Homo sapiens: one gene and its partners. The protein of the gene in region 2 interacts with the protein of the main gene of each other region in a pairwise test. Each region holds a gene or a part of one and is shown on either strand. Other genes may lie near its edges.

What was found.
Region 1: the proteins of DTNB (region 2) and CTBP2 interact in binary tests that used the Homo sapiens proteins (3 or more experiments, as listed by UniProt).
Region 3: the proteins of DTNB (region 2) and BEGAIN interact in binary tests that used the Homo sapiens proteins (3 or more experiments, as listed by UniProt).
Region 4: the proteins of DTNB (region 2) and LURAP1 interact in binary tests that used the Homo sapiens proteins (3 or more experiments, as listed by UniProt).

The regions. Positions count from the first base shown.
Region 1 is NC_000010.11:124,996,546-125,003,571, reverse strand, and holds part of CTBP2 (C-terminal-binding protein 2), read left to right. Parts: intron 1-79; coding exon 80-234; intron 235-467; coding exon 468-612; intron 613-2,077; exon of another isoform or gene 2,078-2,914; intron 2,915-3,120; exon of another isoform or gene 3,121-3,720; intron 3,721-5,401; coding exon 5,402-5,608; intron 5,609-7,026. UniProt on the Homo sapiens protein: Corepressor targeting diverse transcription regulators. Functions in brown adipose tissue (BAT) differentiation. Isoform 2 probably acts as a scaffold for specialized synapses.
Region 2 is NC_000002.12:25,670,556-25,678,130, reverse strand, and holds the start of DTNB (dystrobrevin beta), read left to right. Parts: upstream 1-4,553; 5' UTR 4,554-4,745; intron 4,746-7,575.
Region 3 is NC_000014.9:100,536,629-100,542,425, reverse strand, and holds the end of BEGAIN (brain-enriched guanylate kinase-associated protein), read left to right. Parts: exon of another isoform or gene 1-1,846; coding exon 1,847-1,930; exon of another isoform or gene 1,931-2,296; intron 2,297-2,806; exon of another isoform or gene 2,807-3,110; coding exon 3,111-4,457; 3' UTR 4,458-5,279; downstream 5,280-5,797. UniProt on the Homo sapiens protein: May sustain the structure of the postsynaptic density (PSD).
Region 4 is NC_000001.11:46,213,308-46,220,333, reverse strand, and holds part of LURAP1 (leucine rich adaptor protein 1), read right to left. Parts: intron 636-7,026; coding exon 114-635; 3' UTR 1-113. UniProt on the Homo sapiens protein: Acts as an activator of the canonical NF-kappa-B pathway and drive the production of pro-inflammatory cytokines. Promotes the antigen (Ag)-presenting and priming function of dendritic cells via the canonical NF-kappa-B pathway.

The DNA of each region.
Region 1 (7,026 bases), on a different chromosome or scaffold from region 2:
ATGAGTGGGGAGCTGCCCCTCCACGCACCCTGTGGCCCCAGCCACCCACCCACTGTGCTCACCCCTTCCCTCCTGGCAGGTATCCGCCCCCAGATCATGAACGGCCCCCTGCACCCCCGCCCCCTGGTGGCGCTGCTGGACGGCCGCGACTGCACTGTGGAGATGCCCATCCTGAAGGACCTGGCCACTGTGGCCTTCTGTGACGCGCAGTCGACGCAGGAAATCCACGAGAAGGTGGGCCCACCCTGCCCGGCCGGGGCCTGCACTGACCTTGGGCAGTTTCCTCCCCAGCATCCCCCCATTAGATCGCCCCAAGTCACCGGCAGGCCCCAGAACCCCTGTTCCCTGCTTTCCTGCTGAACTCCTCTGCCTCAGGTTCAAGGGTGATAGGGCCAGGGGGCCAGGCCAAGTGGTGCCGGTGGGCTGCACGGGGTGGGGCTCCGACCCTGTGCTCTGTTCCCACGCAGGTTCTAAACGAAGCCGTGGGCGCCATGATGTACCACACCATCACCCTCACCAGGGAGGACCTGGAGAAGTTCAAGGCCCTGAGAGTGATCGTGCGGATAGGCAGTGGCTATGACAACGTGGACATCAAGGCTGCCGGCGAGCTCGGTGAGTGCGAGGCAGCGCTGGCTGCCTGGAGTTGTCCGGAGCTCTGTGGGCCCTGCTCGGGTGGGCTTGGAGAAGCAGCTGGAACTGGGACCACGGAGCAGCCGCTTCTGGCTGTAGCAAGGTGGCTGCCTCCAGGCCGGGCTGTGGAGCACCTTGCGGCCCTGCCTTCACATGACACAGGTAGGATAGTCCCTGCTGGCCCTTGTGTGGGGTCTGCGGGGCTGTGAGGCATCTCTGCCCTCAGAGCAACACCCAGCTGGCACAGGCTCAATTTGGAGACACCCAGTGCCGCCTCCAGAGGGGAGAATGCGACTGGCCACATGTCCTCTAAACCACCCCTGCTGGGTGCGTCCCCTAAATGACCCCTGCCGTGTGTGTCCCCTAAACTGCCCCTGCCGTGTGCACAGCTCTAGGCCCCTGTCCACATGGGAACCTGGGCCTCCCGTTCTGGGAGGGCAGCCTTAGCAGCATGTGGTCCAGGTCAGCACCAAAGCAGGTGGGCCCCTGCCCAACACAGTTGATGACAGAGGCTTCCGAAGAAAAGCAGAGGCAGCAGGCGGGAACCCAGAGTTGGGGGCTTCAAAGCTGCTTATCGGCCCCATGCACTTGCGGCTGGGGGTGCATGTTGAGGGGGGCCTCTGCCCAGCACCCCGTGTGAGCTCGTGAGTGCTGAGTGCAGAGGCACAAGAAGCAGACCGCTGGCATCGAGCGTCCTCGGGAGAGGGCCAGGTGGGCACTGTGCTTGCTCTGTGTTTGGAACACGCCACCCCTGCATTTTGGGGGTGGGGGCTGTACTCTGCCTTACGAGTGCTGAGGTGCCCCAAATTCATGAGGCACCATGAATTCCAAGGCAGCAGCCTGGCCTTGGAACAGCTCTTCCTGTGCTCCAGGAATAGCCCAGGCGCTATTTCCCCACCTCTCTCCCATCGGCTAAGGCCCCAGTGGGCCCCGGTGCTTCCGGGACGGGCTGGGTGTCAGATGGGCTCTGTGTGTGAGCGGAGTGTTACATACATCTGAGAATCCTGCTCTCGGGCACCACCGGCCACGTTTTCAGGGAGGCCACCCCCATGGGCTCCAGCTGTCTCTCCACAGCCTTAGCCTGGGGCATGGAGTGTATGGGTCAGAATCTTAGTTGAATCCTTCACGGCCAGTCGGGGCAGCACCCAGGTACCGGAAGCACTGGGTGGGTCTTGGTGTCAGGAGCAGGGCTGGGGAGCCGGGCGAGCAGGGAGCTGCCCGTACACTCACAGGGGTCAGGACGCAGTGGGGTGGGGCTGCCCCACGGGCAAATCCCAAAGCAAAAGGCCAGGGAAGGAGAGAGAGTCACTCAGATTCCACACCCCTTAGGGTCCTGGAAGCAGCAGCTTCACACATCCACCCCTCACCCTCCCCACACCCCTCACTTGCTACCAGCCACGGCGTCCTTCCGAGCCCCTCTGTTGGAACAAAGACACTCCAGAAGATGTGAGTCTTCAAAGGCGTGTTTAATATAAACTAAAATTTTCCATCTTTCCCTGGCACAAACAAGGATATTTTTGTTTGAAAACAAATGTCCTTTGTGCTCTGGGTAGAGCTGAAATCCCAAGTTTCAACAGCAGAGGAGAATACAGCTTCATGTGCCAGGGGCTCTCAAATCCTTGTCCCCCGCACCTCTTGCTTCTCCAGCACGTCGGCCCCTCACCACACAGCTCCCAGGCCCATACGGGTGCTGACCCTGCCCTTCCTCGGCTGGACCAGACGCTGCTTTCCAGGGAGAGAGGGGAGGTCCTTGCCTGTGGAACTTCCTATTTCTCCATTTCTAGAAGTGCCCCGCACAGGCAGTGGGGCCAGAAAGGCACCAAGGCCTCAATGACAGGGGGCCTGGGAGGGCCGAGATGGGAGGTTGTGTTCCCTGAGTTCTGAGACCCACAGAAGACGACCAGGACCAGGGACTGCGGTTTTGGAAAATGTAGAAGGGCTGTGAGTGGTGGATTTTCATTGATCCTGGTCCCATCTGATAAGGGCGCTTGGAAGACATCTGCGGGGCCCTTTTAAAGGGCACTTTTCGAATGTAGACTCTGGAGGCGGAAAATGAGCCTCTGTCCAGACGTCCTTTGTCTCCGAATGCATATTCCCCACATCATGCGGTCAACGGGCCTTTTGTGCTGAGGGCTGGGAGCGGCAGGTGGCTGCAGGCAGGCCCTCTCCTGATGAAAGAGGGTCCCTCGCAGGCCCAGAAAACAAGGCCCTCCATGTTGCACGAGGCAGCACACTAGGCCTCTGGTGACACCTTCTGGGATCGCAAGGCTCTGAGCTGTCAGCCCTGGAATGACAGGCGAGAGTCAGCGCTTCACGGCAAGAGCAGGGCAAGGCTTGAGGAAGCTGCTCACCTGCACTTCTCCCCACGAGCCGGGAAGACCTCGAGAGGGCCCTACACCCCTCCCCACCCCCGCCGCCTCTAGCAAGCTGGTTTATGTGGTTTCCTTGCCAGCGGCAGTCATGAAGGGATTAAAGCACGATGGCACTGACCGTGAGAGAAAAGCAGCTTGCCTCTTTGGGGCCGTTTTCCAGGCTCCGTGGATGCTGGGAGGCCCAGCCTGCGAGTATCAGAGCCACCCATCGTGTGGCACTTGAAGGATCAGCTTGACTCATCCAGAAGGGAGGCTGCATCCACAGAGCGATAGAGGACAGCTAAGAAGATGCTCCCTCCGAGAGAGCGGTGAGGGTTATGGAGGTTCCTGGCAGTGGCGCCGCCGCGGTCTGGGTGGGAAGGTTCTGCCATCCCAGGCAGTGGCTGCAGCTCTTCCTCCTGCACCATCTCCCCGTCCTGGGACTCTGCACTCCGGTGAGCAGTGGAACCACGGAGCTGAATGTCCAAGTTCGGTGAGAAGACTGACCAGATGTCCTGCCTCAACCTGCCTTTTTGTGCCACCCACCCACCCGGGTGCCTTTACACACGTGGCCTTGTGGGGTCTCCCAGCCAGCATCAGCTCATCTCCTAGGAGGAGGTGCTGCTGTTGACGCCAGGCAGCACTGCCGAGCCAGCCCCGGCAGCAGCACGGAGCCAGCGTCCTTGAGGGTGATTCTGCTGCGGGGCCTCCCTGCTGGGCTTTAGCCTGCCCGAGGAATGAAAATTGTCCCAGCCGCCAAAGATTTTCTTGAACCTCTGGCATCAGCCTCAGTCTGTCTGACTTAATAATAACATGGCATGTGATCAAGCCCCAGCTTCTCTGCTGAGCTATTTCAAATGAATGAGGCCAGTTTCCTGCAAGATTCCTGGCATCCAGCTCGTGGGAAAGTTGGTCGGCCTCAGTCACCGTCAACCACACTGGTCCCTTGGCAGGGGTCGGTGGCCCAGAGGAGCCCTCAGTGGCCACGTTGGGTGGGTGGGTGACCTGCTCACAGTGGCTTCACCTTCTCTGAGCTGTGTGTCTTGCTAAGCGGGTCACTCTCAAGGCCCTAGACCTAGGGGTGGCCCTTGTGGGGAGACAGCCACGCAGCCATCTAGAAAGTGGGTTTGTGGCACCCACTGGTCTTGTTTCCTGTCCAGTAGAGCCGAAGAAGCTGCCTTGGTGATTGCCGTCCCCACCCCAATCTGTCCCCACCCCAATCTTCAGGACTTAAGATAGAGGAATCCTGGGCTGCCTTAAAGGTGGCCCTGTCCCAGTGCCTTGGGCACCCCTTGCTGGGAGAGACACTCTCCTAAGGGTCCCAAAGCTGGGATTAGGAGGGAACCATTTCACTTGGGCTGACGTGATGCCCAGATAGCCACACCCCTCCTCAGAGAGCTCAACTGGGAGCCACAGGCTGGCTGCTGAGCCCACCCTCTGGGGCCCCGCCCCTGGCTCGGCCCCTCTGGTCTCTGCTGCAAGCAGGCCTCTGGATCTCCACCTGTCGGGTGTAGGGAGGGGCCGTTCCCAGCCTGGCCCTCTGCCTACTTGCACCCCTGTTGTATCTGGCAGTCATTCATTCTTCCCCAGACACCCTCTGGCTGAGGAGGGTAAATGGCAGGGCCCTTTCTGCCTATGACTTGGGTTAACTCTCCATGCCACAGCTGCTTTGTGCTGGGAGATACTTGACCCTGGTCTCTGCAGCTCGTGTGGGGCCAGAGGGCTCACCCCAAGCCACCCTCGGCCCTGACCTGAAGGCTGCTCCACGGGGCAGGGAGGGCATCCTGTCTGCTCTGAGTTCTTCCCAGCAGAGCAGGGTGCTGAGCACATGACCACAGGGCGATTGTGCACACGCTTCGGCCATCGGTTCCGTTCCCGGGGCCAGCCCTTGCATCCGTGTGGGGGTGGAGGTGTTTTTTTAAAACCAGTATGTTTAAAACGTATGTTTTTTGCATCAAACTGTTAGCATAGCTTAAAACCAAAAGCCATTCTTTGTCACCCTGCCAGCTCCATGAGGGAGACCCTGAGGGGTTTGAGGCTGAGTGGGGTCCACTTGGAGGAGTCTGGTCTGAGGCCCACTGGCTTCCTGCCACTCCGGGTCCTTTCTTGGGACTCAGTGCAAGCCCAGGAGGAAGCCAGTCAGGCCCAAAATCAGCCATAGGAGTTGGGTTGGTCATGAGCCACGTCCTGGAGCAAAAGTCCTCCTTGGGAGGGAGGGGTAGATGTTGGGGCTAGAGCTTCCCATGCATCAGAGCCAGAGGGCCTACCGCCCACGTGCCCAGCCCCGCGTCTGCTAGACGATAAGGTGGGCCTCCCCCGGTGCCAACAACCGAGTCTCAGGAGGGCGGGCTGGGAGCCCTGGGGCTTCCCCACTGATCTTGAGGTTTTCTCATCTCCGGCCTTGGCCTCATCCCTTTCAGGAATTGCCGTGTGCAACATCCCGTCTGCAGCCGTGGAAGAGACAGCGGACTCTACCATCTGCCACATCCTCAACCTGTACCGGAGGAACACGTGGCTGTACCAGGCACTGCGGGAAGGCACGCGGGTTCAGAGCGTGGAGCAGATCCGCGAGGTGGCCTCGGGAGCGGCCCGCATCCGTGGGGAGACGCTGGGCCTCATTGGCTTTGGTACGTGCCACCCTCTGCGCTGACCCCCAACCCCTCCGACACTGGGGCTGGTGTAGTGGGGACCCCTCGGGAAAGGCAACCCCAGCCTGCTCTTGAGGAGCCAGGGCAGGCAGGGCCAGCACCCTCCCCGTGTTGCACGGGGTAGGAGATCGGAGTCAAGACCCATCAGGCAACTCACCCTAGAGGCAGGATCTGGGCTGGTTCTGGAAGAATGCGTGTCCACTGCTGTCTGTAGTGTCTGGCAGGACAGCATTCTTTGCTGTGGGGCAGCGGGCAAGGCGCTGTGCCCAGTAAATTTCCCTGGGCAGGGGTGAAGGGCAGGGGCTGTATGGAGGTGTGTCGTAAAGCAGCAGCCAGGCTTGGGGCTCGTGTAGGGGCTGGCGTAGGGTTCAGTGGAGACGCGGGTTATGGACATGGCCTCACTCCTGAAGGCCTTCAAATGCCAGGTTGGGGTGGCACAGTCAGGCCATCAGCTTGGAAAGCTCTCCTGAGAGAGGGGCAGGAAAAGGAGACGTGAGGAGAGGCCCAGGAGGGTCTTCAGCAGGGTGGTAGGGGCCGGTGCCACGGAGAAGGTGATGGTAAGCAGCCTGATTCCATGGGGGCTCGAGGAGGTCCCCACCCTGCTCACCATCAGGGTCCACACCACACCCAGGAGACCTCGGCCCATTGCCACTGAATCTCAACCCCACCGCTTACCAGCTCTGTGGCCTTGTGGGAATTACCTGAGCTTTTTGCCTCAATTTCCCAATCTGTAAGTAGATATTTGGTGGGATACGTGGTATCTGCCTTTTGGGACTCCAAGAAGGCGCATGTGCACACGGGGCCAGTAATGTTCTGGCCTCCGGGAGACTCCCAGCTGCTGCTCAGCCCTTGCTTGGAGCTCCGCGCCTCCGAGGACGAAGCCCCCGTGCTCCTCTCCCCACAAGCCCCGCTCTGGACCTGGGGTGCCACTTGAACAAGAGAGAAGTTGCTGGACGCTTCCAGGAGTGCACACCTTTCTGTCCCCGCTACAGGCTGTGATCTCCTGGGTCTGGCCTCGCCCGACGCCTGGAGTCTGAGTTGAAGTGTCGGGTGCTGGGGATCTTCTGAAAGGACCCACCGTGTTTTGACTTTGTTGGAAAACAGATGTGGTGTGTGAACACCAGGCTCCCTCTGTCCGGGCCCCACTGGGCCTCATGGCTCGGAGATGCAGCTTCATCTCCATCTCTGAAGCCCCTCCTGGGGCCTCGGTGGTCTCTGGCCAGGCTGCAGAGCCTGGGGGTGGTCATGAGCACCCTGGGTACACGGTGGGGCCTCACTGGGGAGGTGCTTGTTTCAGGGGCTTCTGACTCCAGCCGTCACGGGACTTCTTCCTGGGGTCGTTCCTGTAGCTGTGCCCTTGTCATTCAACTTTAAAAACCCTCTCGGTGTATAGAGGT
Region 2 (7,575 bases):
TCACAGTCTTTGGAGTTAGGAATTTGGGTAGGGCTTGGCTGGATGATTCTTCTGTTCCCTGTGGCTTCAACTGAGGTCACTCAGTGGTATTCTGCTGATGTAGGGCTTTCATGACGATTTCACTCATACCAGCAAGAATCAGCTAGGTCCTCTCCTTCTCCATGTAGGACCTTTCTGGGGAGTTACATATTTTACATAGCAGCTTGGGGCTTTAAGAATAAGTGTTCTGGCCAGGCACGGTGGCTCACGCCTGTAATCTCAGCACCTTTGGAGGCTGAGGCGGGTGGCATGAGGTCAGGAGTTCAAGACCAGCCTGGCCAATATGGTGAAACCCCGTCTCTACTAAAAATACAAAAATTAGCCAGGTGTGGTGGTGGGTACCTGTAGTCCCAGCTACTCGGGAGGCGGAGGCAGGAGAATCGCTTGAAACCGGAAGGCAGAGGTTGCAGTGAGCAGAGATCGTGCCACTGCACTCCAGCCTGGGTGAAAGAGTGAAAGTCCATCTCAAAAAAAAAAAAAAAAAAAAAAAAAAAGTGTTCCCAAAGACCAAAGACCCAAACTCAAGTGGACACTTAAAGACTTTTTGTGAACTGGGATTAGAAATCCCAGAATATTGCATGTTCTATTGGCCGAGCAATTCAGTAAGGCCATCCTGGATGGAGAGGAATGATAAAAAAAAAAATTGGCAGCCACGTTTAAAGTCCCGCAGCCCAATTTTCTTTTCTTTCTTTTTTTTTTTTTTTGAGGCAGATTTTCGCTCTTGTTGCCCAAGCTGGAGTGCAATGGCGCAATATCGGCTCACTGCAACCTCCGCCTCCCGGGTTCAAGCGATTCTCCTGCCTCAGCCTCCCGAGTAGCTGGGATCACAGGCGTGCACCACCACACCCGGCTAATTTTGTGCATTTTTAGGAGAAACAGGGTTTCACCATGTTAGCCAGGCTGGTCTCGAACTCCTGACCTCAGGTGATCTGCCCACCTCAGCCTCCCAAAGTGCTGGGATTACAGGTTTGAGCCACCGCACCTGGCCTGCAGTCCAATTTTCTTACCCTTTTAAACAATTTGAACTTTGTACCTGCAGACCTTGAAGATTATTATTATTATCAGTTTAACACTGTAAATAGCATAGCTCTCAGAGTTCAGCCTCTGGCAATTTTCCCAGGTAAATGTAGGCCTTATAGGTTTATATCTTATTTTCAGAAAGATTCTTAGATTATAGCTTCGACATATGTAGCACCCCAGTGACACATATGTTGGATATTCTTTGCTTGTATTCAAATGACATTCCAAAAAGAGACAGAAACAAGCACAAAGGTGTGGAGCCAAGGGGAAGTGGAAACATTCCAGGAGTTTGTATGGTGTGTGTGGAGGAAGCAATAGACGATGGATTGGAGAGAATGGGCAAGGGCTAGATTAAGGGAAGTGCTAGACAGTGACACCAGGGGTGGTAAATTTTTGAAAGCTTTCTCTAATCTGCAGCATGGAAGATGGATTGGAAGCAGCAAGACTGGCAGGGAGACCACATAAAAAGCTGCTGCATGGCCAGGCGCAGTGGCTCACGCCTGTAATCCCAGTACTTTGGGAGGCCAAGGCAGGTGGGGATCACTTGAGGCCAGGAGTTTGAGACCAGGCTGGTCCACATGGTGAAACCCCGTCTCTAACTAAAAATATAAAAATTAGCCAGGCATGATGATGGGCATCTGTAATCCCAGCTACTCAGGAGGCTGAGGCAGGAGAATCGCGTGAACCTGGGAGGCGGAGGTTGCAGTGAGCCAAGATCGTGCCACTGCACTCCAGCCTGGGTGACAGAGCGAGACTCCGTCCCAGAACAAACAAACAAAGCTGCTGCATTAGTTTAGGGGAGGTGGGCTAAGAGGGAAAGATTCTAGTTATTTATTTATGAGGAAGCATCAATGGGACTTAGTGGTTGTTGGGTATGGAGTCAGGGCAGAGGGGTGGTGGGAGAAGAAGGAATCAAGAATGGCCCCCCAGTTTCTGAATTGGTCAACTGGGTGGACAGTAGTTTAGACATGTAGAACGTGGGGTACCTCTAGGACACCCAGGTGGAGAAGTCTGGCGGGCTTTTGTGAATAAGGAACCCAGATGAGTGGCCTGAGCTAGAGAGAGTGCACTTGGGAGTTGCTGATATGCGGTAGATAAAGAAGCGGAGTGGATGGAATGGTCCAGGGAGAATGTGTGGCGTGAGACCAGCTGAGGAGAGAATCTGTGAAACTGAGAAGTGGTCACAGGGGTTAAGACAGGAGTCATGCCATGACACCAAGGGAGTTTCAGAAAGAGTGGGCTACTCTGTTCAATGTCACTGAGAGTTCTAACAATATGAGGACTCAGAGATGGCTTGTGGTATTTAGGATCCAACAAGCCATTCATGACTGAGAGCAATGCAGTGATGTGGTGTGGACAGAAACTACATAGGTTTGAGGAGCTGAGGAGCTGCTGAGGAGGTAGAGATGAGGGTAGATGACTTTCAAGATATTTATGAAGGAAAACTCAGAGAGGGACTAGTAACTGAAGCAGAATCTAGAGGGACAGCGAAAGGGTTTCTTCCTTTTTCTTGAGGACAGGAAAAGCTTAAACATGAATAGATGATGAAGGAAAGAGACAAGTAAAGAGAAGTTGGTAATTTTGGAGTGAGAGGGGGAGAATGATTGAAAGGTGTTTGAAAAGTTTTCTGAGGATGTGGGAGGTGAAGAAATAGAGAACAGAGATGGAGAGATGCCAATACAGTGTCCTTGAAGTATTTAATTCCCTTATGGTTTAGGATTGTCTAGTCCACATATTGAAATTACCTTGGTTTCAATCAATAAACCGAACATATCAAGCGATATTTACACATTTATTTTATATTATTTACACATCTTTTCTCCAAAGAACAGAATCAATGTTTTACCCCTCTCAATGCCTTCCACATAGGGGGTGCTCAAAAAGGGCAAATAAAGAAGCTAGAGGTCTCTTACCTGTATTCTGAGTATCTTAATATGTACAAAACATAGCCAAGACCGTGCCTACAAGAGATAAGTCTCCTCAAGCATGAAAATATTCACACACTTCATATATGTAAGGTAAAAGGTAAAATGTCCATCTTTATTTATTTATTTTGAGACGGAGTCTCACTCTCTTGCCCAGACTTGGAGTACAGTGGTGCGATCTCGACTCACTGCAACCTCTGCCTCCTAGGTTCAGGCGATTCTCCTGCCTCAGCCTCCCAAGTAGCTGGGATTACGGCGTACACCACCACGCCCGGCTAATTTTTGTATTTTTAGTAGAGACAGAGTTTCGCCATGTTGGCCAGGCTGGTCTCGAACCCCTGACCTCAAGTGATCCGTCTGCCTCAGCCTCCCAAAGTGCTGGGATTACAGGCGTGAGCCTCCGCGGCAGGCCAGAAAATGCTCATCTTTTGAGGAACCTATTTGTTCCCATTTAACAAAGTTGGTTATCAGCATTTCCTTCACCATAGGAGTTTAAAAATAAAAAGAGGAGAGGAGGAGGAAGAGGGTGTTCTAAAGGCAGGCAGGCAGGCAGGCAGGCAGCAGCAGGAGGTGGCACGATCTGCCTTACCGTAAGGTGCCAAAAAGCAGTGAAAACCATACTCCCAGCATGCAGGCCTGGGGTCGCTTAGCTCTGGAGCTTACAGCCTTCATCATTGACCAATAGCCCCCAAAGGACGTTGCTGTTTTGAGTCTTAAGTAACGTTGAGAATGACCATTTGAACCATTCAAAAAGTCCTTGCTATATTCTAATTTGGCACCATCTCCTGTATTTCACAGTTTGGAAAGAATTCTATAAAAGATGGATAACAGTAAAACACAAAAAAGCTGGTGCTGAGATGGTAAACCTGGCTGCCCCGGCTCCTTTGCCCAAACTGTTTTCCCAGCCCTAATGTCCTCCCTTTTTCCTCCTAGGACTTCTTTTTCTTCCTTCGAGGTTGACCATAAATGCCGCCTCTAGCCCTCTGCGGCGTCCAAGCAGAAGTCGTCTCTAGCTTCTGTGCCAGCATCGCACCGTGGCTTGGCTCTGCACGGGTCATCGGACTTGGTTGTGTACATGGCTGTTTTCCCCGCTAAGTTTGGGGCGCCTCGAGCCCAGGCGCCGTGACCGTGATCGTGCGCCCACAGGCACCTGGTGCAGCGCGGGGCGCACGCCGCGGCTGGGCTAGCTTGCGGAGTTCACGGGGGTCACTCGGGCACAGGCTTGTGACCCAGGCGCGGAGAATGATTCACGGGGTGGCTCTTTGCATTCTTTGTCGGGTAGTCACGTCGGGCCGGGCACCCCGCCGACGGATACCTGCGGATGGAAAGACACCCGGCCCGACGCCAGCGAGCGGGAGAAGCCTGGATGGAGCCAGCTTCCCGCCTGCCCGGAACCCGCCGGCGACCGGTGGGCGGGGCGCGGCCGCGGGGGCGGGGTGGAGGGGGGTTGCTCGGCCGCTCCCGCCCCCTCCCCGCGCGCGGAAGCCACGCCCCCGGCCGCGCGCTCGCGCTGGGCGCGCGCCCGCCCATCCGCCCTCCGCCCTCCGCCCTCGCGCCCTCGCGCCGGGGGCGGGCGCTGCGCGTGCCGGGCGGAGAAGCGGCGCGAGCCGGGCGCTGCGAACGTTCGCCGCGGGGGTGGCTCCGGGGCCTGAGTAGGCGCTGCCGCTGCCTCAGCCGAGGGGGCTGGGCCGGAGCGTGCGGAGGAGTGAGGCCGCAGGAGACCTTCCCGACGACCCCTGCTCCGGCGGGGAAGTGAGCAAGGTGGGGGTCTGCGGCCGCCGCCGGGGCTGTGGGGAGACGAGCTGGGCTGGAGCCTCGCGCCCGCGAGGTGCGGGACGGCAGCTCGCGCTGCGCCGGGACTGGGGACCCGGGAGCCTGCGGGTGCGGCGCTGCAGGAGTCGGGGAGGGCGCGGGGAGCCGGGGCCGCTGCACCGCGCGCGGCTGCGAGGTGGGACGGCGCGGCTAGCCCCGGAGGGACAGGCAGAGGGGATGCGGCGGATCCCGGGCCGGGAGGGGTATCGGGGTCCGGAACGCGCCGGGGCACGGGCGCGAGCGGGGGCCCGGCGCCGGGCTGATGCTGCCCGAGCCCGGCTCGCCTGGAGGCGGCTCTGCGTTAGGTGCTGAAGGGGCGAGTGAGGCAGGTCCTGGCAGAGGGCAGGTGAGGCGGGCAGGCCCTGGCAGAGGGAAGGGTATTTATTTCAGATCACCCCAAATCACTGTTTCCCGAGGCGCCTAATAGCGAACCTGTCCAGGAGGTCACCCTGGACAGGAAAGAAGTGTCCCGAGACGAGGATGCCGGTGACGAATACTTGCCCTTAAATTCCTGTGCCAGGCCTTGGGATTAGGAAGACCTTCCAGCTACCGTAGGTAGAGACCCGTAGTCAGCACTGGGGCCACGAAATAGTATGGAACACCGTCATGTTATTGAGGTGCTGACAGTGTGGCTGTGAAGATATGCACATGAAATACAAAGGAGCGTCGAATTTTATGTCGCATGCCCTATTTACTTTCGGTCTCTTTTGTCTTTTCCCAGTATTGGGAAATTGGAGCCATAAATTGCGTGGTTTTGGGGATAAAGCAGAAAGGTCAAAAGAAGCCTATGGGAGAAATTTGGGAGAGTTTTGAAGGCTCCTACGGGTAACATTTAAAGGGGGCTCTTAGATGGGGAAAAAAGACGTTTGGAAAGAAAGGAAGTTTCCTTCCTTCCCATCTAGAAATAAGCTCCATGACTATTGACTGCTAAATCTTCAGAATGTTGCCTGGCTCACAGCGGTTGAGCCATAAGTGTCTATTGCATGAATGAATGGACAAGCAAGGTTTGGCCACATTTGCCATGGAGCAGTGTCAGTCACTCTAGTGTTAGGGAAGGTTGCTGGATTTCTCCTGTTCCACAAGTTCTCTCTCTCTGCCTCTTTTTTTTTTTTTTTTTTTTTTTTTTTTTTTGCTATGCGAGGCAACCCCGGTTCTGAGGTCTGGGCACGTTAAAGCAATGGCTAAGGCGGCGAGGTCTTGGTTTCTGTGGCCATGCTACCACTTTCCCATGTGTCTTTCATGTTGGCCTTCAAGAGCTTGCTCCTTGGCCTGTTGCTTGAGATCATCCCATTTTGTTCCTTCTCCCATTGGCTTTTTCTATTACTTGAGAAGGAAGAGGGTAGTGTTGTCTAGAGAACACTTTTTCATTTTGGTCCTGGTTCTTGGGTCTTAGACCTGTAGTGCGAGGCTGTTGGTGCCTCTGCTTTTCTGTAAGGGCTGGAATTCTACCTGTGCTCTGCCTTGGTTGAATCTCTGAACTCTGGAGCTCCAGGCTGCTGTTTCAGTAACCTGGGTTGCAGTGCCTGTTGGGTTACTTTGTCTGCCAAATTAAAACTTGACCTTTTATGAGTTCTCTAAGGATTTTTATCATGCATAAGTGGAATTGCCTTTGAAAGGGGTTGTGCAGTCAAGGTAGTGCTGGCAGAGTTTTTGGATGTCCACTATGCCCGAGAGACAAATTTCTACCTATGGTTAGAAAATTAGACTCAGAACCAAGAGAATTTCAACTTATTGTTTATTTTATGTCTTTATGTTACTCTCTCAGGGCCTTAGTTTCTTCGTGTGAAAAATAAGTAATAATCAAAATCTGGCATTGTATAGGAAGCCTTGAAGAAGTAAATTTATTTCTCCTGTTTCAGGGCTGTACAGCCAGCAGGTCTCTTGTTGAGAGGTGCCTAGGTTCTACAATATTGGGTGCCTTATTCCAGGCTCTCTCAATGATATTTTGTTTATGTATTTATTTTAAAACCAACTTTTTGACGTATAGTTGACAAAATAAAATGCACAGATTTCCCGTGTGCGGTTGGATGAGTTTTGGAAAAATGTGTACAGTAGTCCCCCCATTAGCCTCAGGGATATGTTCCAAGAGCACCAGTGGATGCCTGAAGCCACAGTTAATTCCAAACCCTATATAGACTGTTTTTTCCCTATACTTAAGTATCTATGATAAAGTTTTAACTTATAAATTAGTTGCCATGAGAGATTAATGACTTCTCTTAGGCATATGTTTGGCTTCTCTGTGGCATATCCCAATTGCCAGCATCACTACTCTTGCACTTTATTATTAAGTAAAACAGTGGTCACTTGAACACAAGCACTGTGATACCATGACAGTCAATCTGATCATTGAGACAGCTACTAAGTGAGTAACCAGAAGGTGGCTTATGCAGTGTGGATATGCTGGAGAAAGGGATAGTTCATATCCCAGGTGGGACAGAGTGGGATGGCACAAAATTTCGTCACGCTATTCAGAATGGTACACAACTTAAAACTTACAAATTGTTTATTTCTGAGGGGAGACTGCTGTATACTTTGTAACCACCATTCCAATCAAGAAATTTCCATCACCCCAGAATGTTCCCTTATGCTGGTTTGCAGTCCATTCTCTATCTTCCCTACTCCCTTTTATTGATTTCGAATTACACGAGCATCAGAGCTGTGGCACCTAGTTGTGTAGATTGTATTCTGCCCAGCTTTAGGGAGCACCATTCACATTGGAGTCCTTGTGCCTGGCAGCTGCTGGAGTTGTGTAGTGCACACTCTGTGTGACTGTGTGCTG
Region 3 (5,797 bases), on a different chromosome or scaffold from region 2:
GCAGATGAGAAGCAGGGAGGCCCCAGGACGGAGTAGGGACCAGCAAGGATGCCTGGGAGGGAGTGGCCAGTAGGCTGGGGGACACCAGGCGAGTATGGTGGCCCAACAACCACTTGAGAAGGGGGCTGCAGTCAATGCCCTGGCCGGCTGGCTTGCCAGCTGCTGAGAGACCAGGTCAGAGGGCCAAGGAGAGGCATTGGGATTTGGGGAACTGGAGGTCGGTGGTGGAGTGGAGCGGTGGTTCCAGACACAGGCCACCCTTCTAAGGAGTGTGGCTCTAACAGGAGGACAGGAGGACATGGGCTCGGGACAGGAGGTGCTTCTTAACGTGACAAGGCCAGGCCCCTTACCTAAGTGGACACTAGTCCTGGGGCCCTCTCTGCAGGGTTGGTGCACATGAGGAAACTAAGGCATGGCCAGCTTGAGTGGTTTCCCAGGTGACCCAGGTGGTGTCTCGCAGACGGAGCCAGAACTCAACCTCGGGACTCCGACTCCAGCAGCCCCGGGCCCTGGGTGGCCAGAGTGCTTGCCTCCACCTGTTCGCTCTGCCAGAGTGTCCCGTGAGCATTTCCTCCCCGAGCCAGCAGCTGCGGCTGCTCAGGAAAGGCTCCCAGCTGTCCCAGAGCTGGCCACCTCAGACATGGACAGCCCAGGGGCTTGGGTACTCAGCCAGGTGCCCCAGGGGCTATGGGCATGGCACCGGCTTCCCAGTGGCAGCCACTCCTGGCTGTGGCTGGTGGGGCTCAGTGGCAGACCTGGGCTGGCTGGGCAGTGCCTGCAGCCCTCTGGTGCCAGGGGCAGCCGGTCGACTGGGGTCATACAAGGGGTCAGTTCTCAGCTCTCAGGCAGCCGTGCTGTTCTGTTCCTAGGAGGCCCAGGGAGGCACTGAGAGGGGTTTGGCGACTCCGACGCCCTCCACCGTGTAGGCCAAGTTGGGGGCACCAGCCTTCAGTGAGGGAGGCTCCAGGGCCGTGGTGGGGGGACAGAAAGGTGCCTGTGTCAGAGACAGCCTTGCCTGGACAGCAGGATGCCTGGTGCTGGCTGGGTTGGGACTGTGGCCAGCCCTTGCCAGGAGCAGCCATGGGGCAGCTCAGGTGGGTCACTGGGCCTCCGGGCCACCCCAGGGCTAGCTGTCAGAGCCCTCGCAGTGGGGACCCCGGAGGGGCGGGAATGCAAGCCCCAAACACAGGCACATGCAACAGAGATTTTCAGTGGCGAAGCCACACCCCTTGAGTCCTACTGTTTGCATCTGTTTTCAGCTCAGGAGGCTGAGCCAGCGCCCGCCTGGGCCTGAGGTCACACACCTGCCCAGTCCCTGCCCAGCCCTGCAGCCACACTGTTTCCAAACCACACTCTGGGAAGAGGGTTGTGAGCAGCAAGTCTGAAGTGCGGGGTGGAAGGTGCTGGGGGTTCATCCTGCCTCCCATTCCTGCCTGGCACTCCCACCCCGTCATCTTTGGAAGGACGCCGAGAGCCTGAGGGACAGGGACAGGGAGACCAGGCCTGCTCTACGAGCCTGGGGGAGCTCAGGGCCATTGGGGCTCCTTCTTCTACCACTGCCCCCCACCTTGTGGGAGGTTCCCATCTTGGCAGTGCTCAAGGGCACCAGCTAGGGCAGCGGCAGGGCCCTCCATGCTCCGGCAGCCCCAGGTCAGAAAGAGGCTCTCATTTTGCAGGCAAGAGTGTGGAGGCCAGAGAGGGCCGGAGCCAGCAGTGGGTCCTTGTCCTGCTGAGCGCACAGCAGGCCCTGTGCACACCACTGCCCCCGCTGGCCACTTGGCGCTGGTCAGGGCGGCGGGGCCTTGGCTGGGGTGAATGGCGCCAAACGCCTTCTCTTGTCTTTTAGGAGCTCTATAGGAAGGACTGCAATCTAGCGGCCCAGCTGCTGCAGTGCAGCCAGACCTACGGCAGGGTCCACAAGGTGTCTGAGGTAACGTGGCCCCGCAGCCAGGCCCACCCCGCCCCGGGACCACCGGGCTCCTTTTGTGCCAGTGCTACCCCAAAGCCATTTCCCATCTTTGAGGAGGAAGATGCCAGCTGAGCCTGAGCCTCCTCTGTCCCCCTCGCTCCTGTGGGGTCATGACATTGGAGGGGCCGCCAAAGGCACCCCACCTCACGCAGCCGGGCAGCCCCTGGCCCTCACCAGAGTCCCTTTGGCCCACCCCGGCTGCTGGTTGCCCTCGGTTTCCTTTGGGGGGCTGCTCCAGGTCCTTGCTTCCACTGAGCGCTGACACGGCAGAGTGACCTTTGTGGAGCTTCGCAGGAGCCTGTGGCTGGGCACGATGACCGGCAGTGCCTATTTCAGAAAGAAAACATTCAGGAAAGAGGGCGTGGCTGAGGCCACGTGGCAGGCAGGTAGCAGAGCCAGGACCCAGAACCAGGCCTGTCTGATGCCAAGGGCAGATGGGCCAGAGGCCCACCCCTGCCCGCCTATGGTCGCCGCACCCTGCGCACCCCGTCCCCCGACCCTCCCCTCACATGCAATCTCCCAGCCAGGCCTGTGCGTTCCTTTCCCCTGGTCCTGGGCCATGCCTGAGACACTCACAAAATAGATCAAACAGTAGCGGGACACCCCCACATGGCACCAGGCGCTCTCAGCCCTGGCCCTCAATCTTTGTTGCATCTGAGTCTGTCTTCTTCAGGAGCGCTCCAGCAGCATGACTGGGGGGCTGGGGAGTGGGTCATGCCCCCAGTAGAACCCACAGAACCCACGGGCCTGGGAGAGCAAGTCAACCCCTCGCTGGGCACAAAATGGGTGGGGTGGGGGTGGCGGGGGGTGGAGCCTTGAGTGGGGCCTGAATCAGACCTGGGTTCCGGCTTCTCCAGGCGACTGCAGCTTCTGGGCTCTCCTGGGCCCAATCAGAGTGGGGTGGGGAGAGGTGACCCAGGATCCCCAGGCAGTCACAGCACCCACACCCCTGGGAGCTTGTTCAGTACAGCGTCCTGGATCCAGGCTCCCCCTGGTGTGATTTGAGAAGCCGGGAGGCCCCCGTTCGTCTGTCTGCCTGTCGGTCATGGCTAACATCAGTCCTCAGCTTCAGGGCCAGGGCTGGGCTGCCATGCTAACAGTGACCCTGTACCCGCCGTCCCCCTCCTCGCACCCGTTCCAGCTGCCCTCGGATTTCCAGGAGCGCGTGAGCCTGCACATGGAGAAGCACGGCTGCAGCCTGCCATCCCCGCTCTGCCACCCGGCCTACGCCGACAGCGTCCCCACCTGCGTCATTGCCAAGGTGCTGGAGAAGCCGGACCCCGCCAGCCTGTCCTCCCGCCTGTCCGATGCCTCCGCCCGCGACCTGGCCTTCTGCGACGGGGTGGAGAAACCAGGCCCGCGGCCCCCCTACAAGGGAGACATCTACTGCAGTGACACAGCCCTCTACTGCCCGGAGGAGCGGCGGCGAGACCGGCGGCCTAGCGTGGACGCGCCCGTGACCGACGTGGGCTTCCTGCGGGCCCAGAACTCCACTGACAGCGCGGCCGAGGAGGAGGAGGAGGCCGAGGCGGCGGCCTTCCCGGCGGGCTTCCAGCATGAGGCCTTCCCCAGCTACGCAGGCTCACTGCCCACGTCCAGCTCCTACTCCAGCTTCAGCGCCACGTCGGAGGAGAAGGAGCACGCGCAGGCCAGCACGCTGACCGCGTCGCAGCAGGCCATCTACCTGAACAGCCGCGACGAGCTCTTCGACCGCAAGCCACCCGCCACCACCTACGAGGGCAGCCCTCGCTTTGCCAAGGCCACGGCCGCGGTGGCGGCCCCGCTGGAGGCCGAAGTGGCCCCAGGCTTCGGGCGGACCATGTCACCGTACCCGGCCGAGACCTTCCGCTTCCCGGCCTCTCCGGGTCCCCAGCAGGCCCTGATGCCCCCAAACCTGTGGAGCCTGCGGGCCAAGCCGGGGACCGCCCGGCTCCCCGGGGAGGACATGAGGGGCCAGTGGCGTCCCCTGAGCGTGGAGGACATCGGCGCCTACTCCTACCCCGTGAGCGCTGCCGGCCGCGCCTCACCCTGCAGCTTCTCTGAACGCTACTACGGCGGGGCCGGGGGCAGCCCGGGCAAGAAGGCCGACGGCCGCGCCAGCCCGCTCTACGCCAGCTACAAGGCCGACAGCTTCTCCGAGGGGGACGACCTCTCCCAGGGCCACCTGGCAGAGCCCTGCTTCCTGCGGGCGGGCGGCGACCTGAGCCTCAGTCCCGGCCGCTCGGCTGACCCACTGCCCGGCTATGCACCCAGCGAGGGGGGGGACGGGGACAGGCTCGGGGTGCAGCTGTGTGGGACCGCCAGCAGCCCTGAGCCCGAGCAGGGTTCCAGGGACTCCTTGGAGCCGAGCTCCATGGAGGCCTCCCCGGAAATGCATCCTGCCGCCCGCCTCAGCCCCCAGCAGGCCTTTCCGCGGACTGGTGGCTCGGGGCTGAGCCGCAAGGACAGCCTCACCAAGGCCCAGCTCTACGGAACCTTGCTCAACTGAGCGCCTGCGTGCAGGCCTGGCCGTGGTTCGCTCCCCGCCAGCCCACGTGCCCCAGAAGGGCCGGCCTCACCTCTCCCCAGCCCCCGCTGTTCCCCTGCCCCGGCCAACAACGAGGAGTCTGTTCCTCCCCGCACCTCCTCTCCTCCCCAGCCCTGTAGGCCTGAGGGGAGGGTCCCCCACACCACGGTGTCCACCCGGCCCCGGCCCGTGGAACTCCACTTAGAGCGTTTTTCACGCGTCCTTCCCCCATGTGAGAGGAGCATCCCCCCTTTTATAAAGCGAAACTATTTTTATAGAGAAAAAGGGTCTTTCTTAACGCACTTGGCCTCCAGCTCCCTGGACGGCTGCCTTGGCGTTTTCAACACAAAGCTCCTTTATTTTTTGGGCGAGGGTGCGTGGGGCCTGCCCCTTGGAAGGGAAGGGAAGGACGGTGTCCTGTGGAGACCAGACTCTGCAAGTGGGGAGACCACCCCCGCAAGCCAGTGACAAGGGAGCCCTGAAGTTGTGTCCACGAAGAGGGAGCTGAAACAAATTCGGGGCTATGAAGTGTTTTAAAAATCCATTCTTCGCAGTGTGGCCACCACACCGCCCTGAGCCCTCCCACGGCCCATCGTCCCGGGTGGGCCGGGATGATGCCCCAGTGCGGCCGGTGCTCATCTCCGCCCCCGGGTCCGCCCCCTGACACCGTCTTACTCTACCTCAGACATGAGGAGGCCCTCCATTCCTGGTTTCTGTAGCTTGCATTCTTGTTGTCTCTGATGCATGCCCTGCCAGTTAGTACTGTATTTTGCATTCATTAATAAAAGACACCGGTGGAAAGAATCTGGGTTGGGCTGTTTCTCCTCCTCCTGCCTTTTGGTCTCGGGAACCTGGGGTCCCTGGTGTCCCTCCCCAGCCTTGCTCTCTGCAGCCGAGTTGGGCCCCTTAACCCCACTTCACACCCCATCCCCATAACACCCCGTCCCCACCCCGCCATCCAAGTTCCTATCTAGGGTGTGGATTCTCCTGCTTCTCCCAACCCACTGGAGACAACAGCTCTTTCATCCCATTCTCCTGCGCGCTGCCCCACCGATTTCCTGGCCCCTAATCCTCGTGTCTCAGACTTGGCTTCTGCTCCTTGAGATGTACTGGGGCCACGGATGGAATGTCGGCAGGTGGCCTTTTCCCGGGCACACGGGATGCTGCCGCTCTGCTCTGTCTTCCTGTTGGTATTGGGAACTGGCTGTCAGTCCCGGAGCCGCTCCATTGGTTAGAAAAAAAAAATTGCTTTCTTTTCCCCGGCTCTTTAAGATTTTCTCTTTGACTTTGGCTTTCTGCAGTTTCCCTGAGGTGTGTCTGGG
Region 4 (7,026 bases), on a different chromosome or scaffold from region 2:
ACTGATTTCAGTGCAGCCTCTTCCTAGTCTCAGACTGAGGGAGAATCAATTTTGGGGGAGACCACATCTAATGGATAAAAGAGCCACAGGATTACAAAAGGGTGGAATAGTTGTTACAAGAAGGTCACATCATCCTGGCACTGCTCCCAGAACCAGTGGGCCTCGAAGCCCAGCTTGGCACTCTCATCCTCTGGTGACTCAGGTGGTCCACCTTGAAGCCTCTCCCCTGGGGGCTTCCACACAGCTCTCAAGCTCCCTAGCCTGGTGGCTGCCACATCCACCTCAGTCCTGGCCCTCTCTCCACCAGCTATAACTTTTGCCCAGTCCATCTCGGAACGTGGAGCCCCAGGTGGGCCCTGTTCATCCAGCTCGCTGGGGGCCACTGTGTCCAGGAAGCTGCCAATAGAGACACTGTCCAGCCGGTCGGTGGTGCTGGTGTCTGGCAGGCTGTCCCAGCTGCCTCGCCTTGAGCGGCCTGGGCTCCCGCCTGTCAGGCTATATTGACTGCTGGTGAGGCTGCTGCAATGACTGGTCAACGTCCCCCGCTCCTCCAACAGCCAGCGCACTGCCTCGATGCCCTCATTCAAGGTCACCAGCTGCTGCAGGATCTTCACATCGATGGCTCGCAGGTAAGCCTGGGGGAGTGGGAGAAGGAATTAGTCCCAGTTCTGGGGCATGGGTTTCCCCAGCGTTTCCACAGGCCACTACCTTGTGGTTCAGCCAACCATGTTTCACTTTAAGACGGATGGAATTATAACGGCTTGCAGTGTAGGCTTCAGAAGCAGACAGACTGCTGCCTAACATTTCAGCTCTACCACTGATTAGACATATCTTCTTTGAGCCTCAGTCTCTTTGTTTGTAAAACAGGATTAAATCACTTACCTCACAGGGTAGCTGTGAGGATTCTGAAATGCTGTCTATTAAGTACTCAGCACAGTGCCTAGCACAGAGGAAGGTCTCAGTAAATGTTAAGTATTAAAATCCAATCCTATTAAGCTTTGAACTTCATATTTAGGGTACTTCTTTTTTTTTTTTTTTGAAATGGAGTTTCGCTCTTGTTGTCCAGGATGGAGTGCAATGGCGCGATCTCAGCTCACCGCAACCTCCGCCTCCTGGGTTCAAGCGATTCTCCTGCCTCAGTCTCCCAATTAGCTGGGATTACAGGCGTGTACCACCACACCCAGCTAATTTTGTATTTTTAGTAGAGACAGGTTTCACCATGTTGGTCAGGCTGGTCTCAAACCCTTGACCTTAGGTGATCCGCCCACCTCAGCCTCCCAAAGTGCTGGAATTACAGGCATGAGCCACCATGCCCAGCCACAGGGTACTGACTATTGAGCCTGCCCATATTCACCAGAAAGACATAGAAACAAAGAATAGCAAGATAGGGTGTTAATCAGGAAGTAGATTGGGCCAAAAGGAGGCAGGAGCTGGGGAATAAAGAGAGCTAACCTGGTTCCCTAGTCTTTTCAGGGCATTGGTAGCAGCCACCGAGAGGGGAAAGGGTTGGCCAGAGCTTAGAAGGATCAGAATCCCACTGGCTGGGCATTCAGGCCTTCTTGCCTGTACACACCAGTCTACCTGTCTGTACTGGAAGTAAATTTGACTTACAGGGTAATCTCAAGCGTCCGTTCCAGCTCAGATGCACTGTTACCTTCCCTAAGCACAAGTCTGAACCTGTCTCTCCCTGCTCAAGAGCCTTTATAGGCATTGCACTGCTCTTAGAGAGTGCCGAATCCGAACATCTACAATAGCAGGGAACTCCGCCCTCCTCTTAGAGAATGAAATCTAAACATTTTAGCAACTGGCATTCAAAAGCCTGTAACATGTGGCTCTCGCCCATCTCTATAGTTTCGCCTCTAGCATTCTGCTCTGTGAACCCAAGGTGCTGCCACAAATGACTTTTTAAAACTAGTTTTATTTAGTTTTACTTTTATTATTATTTTTTGAGACAGGGTCTTGTTCTGTCACTCAGGCTAGAGTGCAGTGGCACAGTCATGGCTCACTACAGCCTCCATCTCCTGGTCTCAAGCGATTCTCTCACCTCAACCTCCCAAGGAGCTAAGACCACAGGCGTGCACCACACCTGGCTAATTTTATTTTTTGTACAGACAAGGTCTCACCTTGTTGCCCAGGTTGGTCTCAAACTCCTAGGCTCAAAGCAATTCTTCCAAAAGTGCTGGGATTACAGGTGTGAGCCACCACACCCAGCCCAGTTTTATTTCTAATCAAAGTAACAGATGCACAGAGATTAAAGAGGCAAACAGTTCCACAAGATTATGAACATGAACAGTTCTCCCATCCTGGTCCTACTTCCCAGAAACAACTATTATTATTTATTTAGTTGTTTATTTTGGTATTTACCTCCTAATCTCCATATTTATATTGCTATTTCTTGGTATTTAAATTTCAGGCATTTTCTATTGATTTCCCACACTATATAAGATTAGGGACTTAACTTTCTTTTTTCTTTTTTGAGACAGAGTTTCTCTCTTGTTGCCCAGGCTGGAGTGCAATGGCGCCATCTTAGCTCACTGCAACCTCCGCCTCCAGGGTTCAAGCGATTCTCTTGCCTCAGCCTGCTGAGTAGCTGGGATTACAAGTATCACCTACCACGCCTGGCTAATTTTTGTATTTTTAGTAGAGACAGGGCATCACCAGGTTAGCCAGGCTGGTCTCAAACTCCTGACCTCAAATAATCTGCCCACCTTGGACTTCCAAAGTGCCGGGATTACAAGGCGTGAACCACCACGCCCAGGCAGGATTTAACTTTCATCCCACTCCCCACTCCCCTGCCATACAGATACCCTTCCCATCTTCCATCCTCCTAATAGGCAATAAAATTACTCAGTGTTTACTTTATTAGGATTTGGAAATGCTCTTCACAGCTAAGCCATGTAGTTTACTATAGTTACTTTTTATTTCTTACAACATTTTATCCTTAGAATTATTATTATTATTATATTGCCTAGTTTGCTATGTAGTTATCAGCAAGTCAACCTCAAACACTCCCTCAATTCTCTGAATTTCCCTCTCCAGGCTTTTGAATGCATGACACGTTCTATCTATTCCATCTTCTGAGAGGCATCTCTTAAGGAGCCCTCTGCTCTGCTTCCATCTGTCCTTGCTGCACAATTGCCCTCCAGGGATCTCCCTCCATTATCATCTTGGTAATTCCTTTGCCTCTTTCCTTAGCTGGATCCCTCGTTTCTTAGATTCCATATCTTCTTTTTTCATTTACTCCTTCATTTGGGTGAATGGTTCTTTCCCTCTAGTAGCATCCTGAGAAAGTTGGCATAAGAGGTAAATTTATTGAAGCTTTGCATGTTTTAAAATGTTATTACACATCCATAAGATATAATGAAATCATGTCCTTTGCAGCAACATGTATGCAACTGGAGGCTATAATCCTAAGTGAATTAATGCAAGAGCAGAAAACCAAATACTGCATGTTCTAACTTATAAATGGGAGCTAAACATTGGGTATATGAACATAAAGATGGTAATGATAGACACTGGGGACTGTTGGAGGAGGGAGAGAGGTGGGGGCAAGGATTGAAAAATTATTTGTTGGGTACTATGCTCACTTCCTGGGTGATGGGTTCAACAGTATCCCAAATCTCAGAATCATGTGATATACCCATGTAACAAACCTGCGCAGGTACCCCCCTCCGAATCTAAAATAAAAGTTGGGCTGGGCATGGTGGCTCTTGCCTGTAATTCCAGCACTTGGAGAGGCCAAGAGAGGAGGATCACTTGAGTCTAGGAGTTTGAGATCAGCCTAGGTAACAGAGTGAGACACTGTCTCTACAAAAAATTTAAAAATTAGTCAGGTGTGGTGGTATGTGCCTGTAGACCCAGCTCCTCGGGAGGCTGAGGTGAGAGGATTGCTTGAGCCTGGGGGGTCAAGGCTGCAGTGATCCATGGTGGTGCCACTGCACCCAGCCTGGGTGACAGAATGAGATTTCTCTCAAATAAGATAAAATAGGGCCGAGCGTGGTGGCTCATGCCTGTAATCCCAGCACTTTGGGAGGCCGAGGCGGGTGGATCACGAGGTCAGGAGATAGAGACCATCCTGGCTAACACGGTGAAACCCCGTCTCTACTAAAAATACAAAAAATTAGCTGGGCGAGGTGGCGGGCGCCTGTAGTCTCAGCTACTCGGGAGGTTGAGGCAGGAGAATGGCGTGAACCTGGGGGGCGGAGCCTGCAGTGAGCCGAGATCGCGCCACTGCACTCCAGCCTGGGCAACAGCGAGACTCCGTCACAAAAAAAAAAAAAAAAAAAAAAAGATAAAATAAAAGTTGAAATTATTTTTAAAAAGTTATTAATCTTTCCTCACACTATTGATAGTTTGGCAGGATATAGAATTCCAGGTTGAAAATAATTCTTCCTCAGGGGTTAAGGCATTGTTCCATTGTCGTATTTTATTTTTGAGACAGGGTCTTACTCTATAGCCCAGGCTGGAGTGCAGTGGTGGCACAATCATGGTTGACTACAGCCTTGATCCCCTGAGCTCAAGCAACCCTCCTGCCTCAGCCTCCTAAGTAGCTGGACTACAGGCATGTACCTACACCTGGCTAATTTTTAAATTTTTTTTTGTAGATGGGGTCTCACTATGTTGCCCAGGCTGGTCTCAAACTCCTGAGCTCAAGGGATCTGCCCATCTTGGCCTCCCAGAGTGCTGGGATTAGAGGCATGTGCCATGGCACCCAGCCTCCATGTCTTTTAATTTTCAGTGTTAGCCTTTAAAAATCTAATGCCATTCCAATCCCTGATCCTTTGTATGTGACCCTTTTCCCATTCTTGCTGAAAGCTTTTAGGATCTTCTCTTTGTTCCCAGTGTTCTGTTTTTACAGCAATTTGCCATGGTGTGGGTTATTTTCATCTATTGAGTTAGCCACTTGATGGGCCTTTTCAATCTGGAAACTGACGTTCTTCAGTTCTGGGAGATTTTTTAAAATTATTTCTTTGATGATTATCCTCCAGTATTTTTCTGTTCTTTCTGGGAATCCTATTACTTGGACAGAGGGTGTCCTGAACTGATGATCCTCTATGTTTTTGTTTTTGTTTTTTTCACTCTTGCATCTCTTTTTTTTTTTTTTTTTTGAGACAGAGTTTTGTTGTGTCGCCCAGGCTAGAGTGCAATGGTGCGATCTTGGCTTACTGCAAGCTCCACCTCCCGGGTTCACGCCATTCTCCTGCCTCAGCCTCCCAAGCAGCTGGGACTACAGGTGCCCACCACCACACCCGGCTAATTTTTTGTATCTTTAGTACAGACAGGGTTTCACCATGTTAGCCAGGATGGTTTCAATCTCCTGACCTTGTGATCCACCTGCCTTGGCCTCTCAAAGTGCTGGGATTACAGGCGTGAGCCACAGCACCCAGTCACATCTATTTCTATACTTGCTCTAGTTTCTGAAATATTTCAACTTGATCAACTCCTCTTTTTTTTTTTTTTTTTTTTGAGATGGAGTCTCACTCTTGTCCCCCAGGCTGGAGTGCAATGGCGCACATCTTGGCTCACTGCAGCCTCTGCCTCTCGGGTTCAAGTGATTCTCATGACTCAGGCTCCCAAGTAACTGGAATTACAGGTGTCTGCCACCACATCTGGCTGATTTTTGTATTTTTAGTAGAGATGGGGTTTCACCATGTTGGTCAGGCTGCTATTGAACTCCTGACCTCAGGTGATCCACTGCCTTGGCCTCCCAAGTGCTGGGATTACAGGCATGAGCCACCACACCTGGCCTATTATCAACTCTTTGGTTTTTCTTTTTTCTTTTCCCCGCCATGATGTGTTTATTTCCAAGTGCTGTTTCTAGTTCTCTGAATGTTTACCTTTTTACACCTTCTTGTTTTTGTTCATGGCTACAGTATTATCTTTTATCTCTTTAAGGATATGCTTAATGATTTTTATAAGTTCGTATCTCTCTGTATTATCTCCATTTCATTCAAGTTGCTTTTTCTTTTCCTTTTTTTTTTTCTTTTTGAGACAGAATGTCATTCTGTCACCCAGGCTGGAGTGCAGTGGCACGATCTCGGCTCACTGCAACCTCTACCTCCCAGGTTCAAGCGATTCTCATGCCTCAACCTTCTGAATAGCTGGGATTACAGGTGCCCGCTACCACAACCAGCTAATTTTTGTATTTTCAGTAGGGATGGGGTTTCATCATGTTGGCCAGGCTGGTCTCAAATTCCTGACCTCAAGTGATCATCCAGCCTCGGCCTTCCAAAGTATTGGGATTACAGGCCTGAGCCACCATGCCCGGCCTCAAGTTGCTTTTTCCTATTTATTTAGGTCTATATAGAGGGTCAGATGTCTATCATCTTTAACTGCTGCTCACCCTTCAGAGTGGATCTCTACAATGACTAGAAACCGTGTATGTATGAAGCTTGCCAACTCTGAGCCTCACTACAGGATGATCTGATTGGGCTGTTTAATTGGAGGTCTAAAGTCTGTATCTTTTTTTTTTTTCTTGAGTTAATCATATTCCCCATATTATACCACTCTAGAGAGTATAACGTAAGCAAGGCTGTCAGTATCCTAGGAGCCAAGTAGGGGTAAAGGCTTGGAGAGGTATTTCATGATATTTAGTACTTTTTAAAGTTTTTGTAGAGACAAAGTCTCGCTACGTTGTCCAGGCTGGAGTGCAGTGGCATGATCATAGCTCACTGTAGCCTCAAACTCCCAGGCTCAAACTCCTCACCTCAGCCTCCCAGAGTGCTGTGATTACAGGCGTAAGCCATTGTGCCTGGCCGTATTTAGTGTATTTTTATTTAGTCCCTCTTGTCCTCAACTATGCTCAGTGTCTTTTAATCTAGAGACCTTCTGTTCTATTCTCCATATATAAAGTCATTTGTCACGTAACAATGGGGATATGCTTAGAGAAATACACCAGCAGGAGGTTTTACTGCCGTGCAAATATGACAGGGTAAATGCACAAACTAGATGACATTTTAAAAAATTTATATACTTTTTAAAATATGGAAAACAAAATGTCCCAGCACAATTACTGAATATCAATCC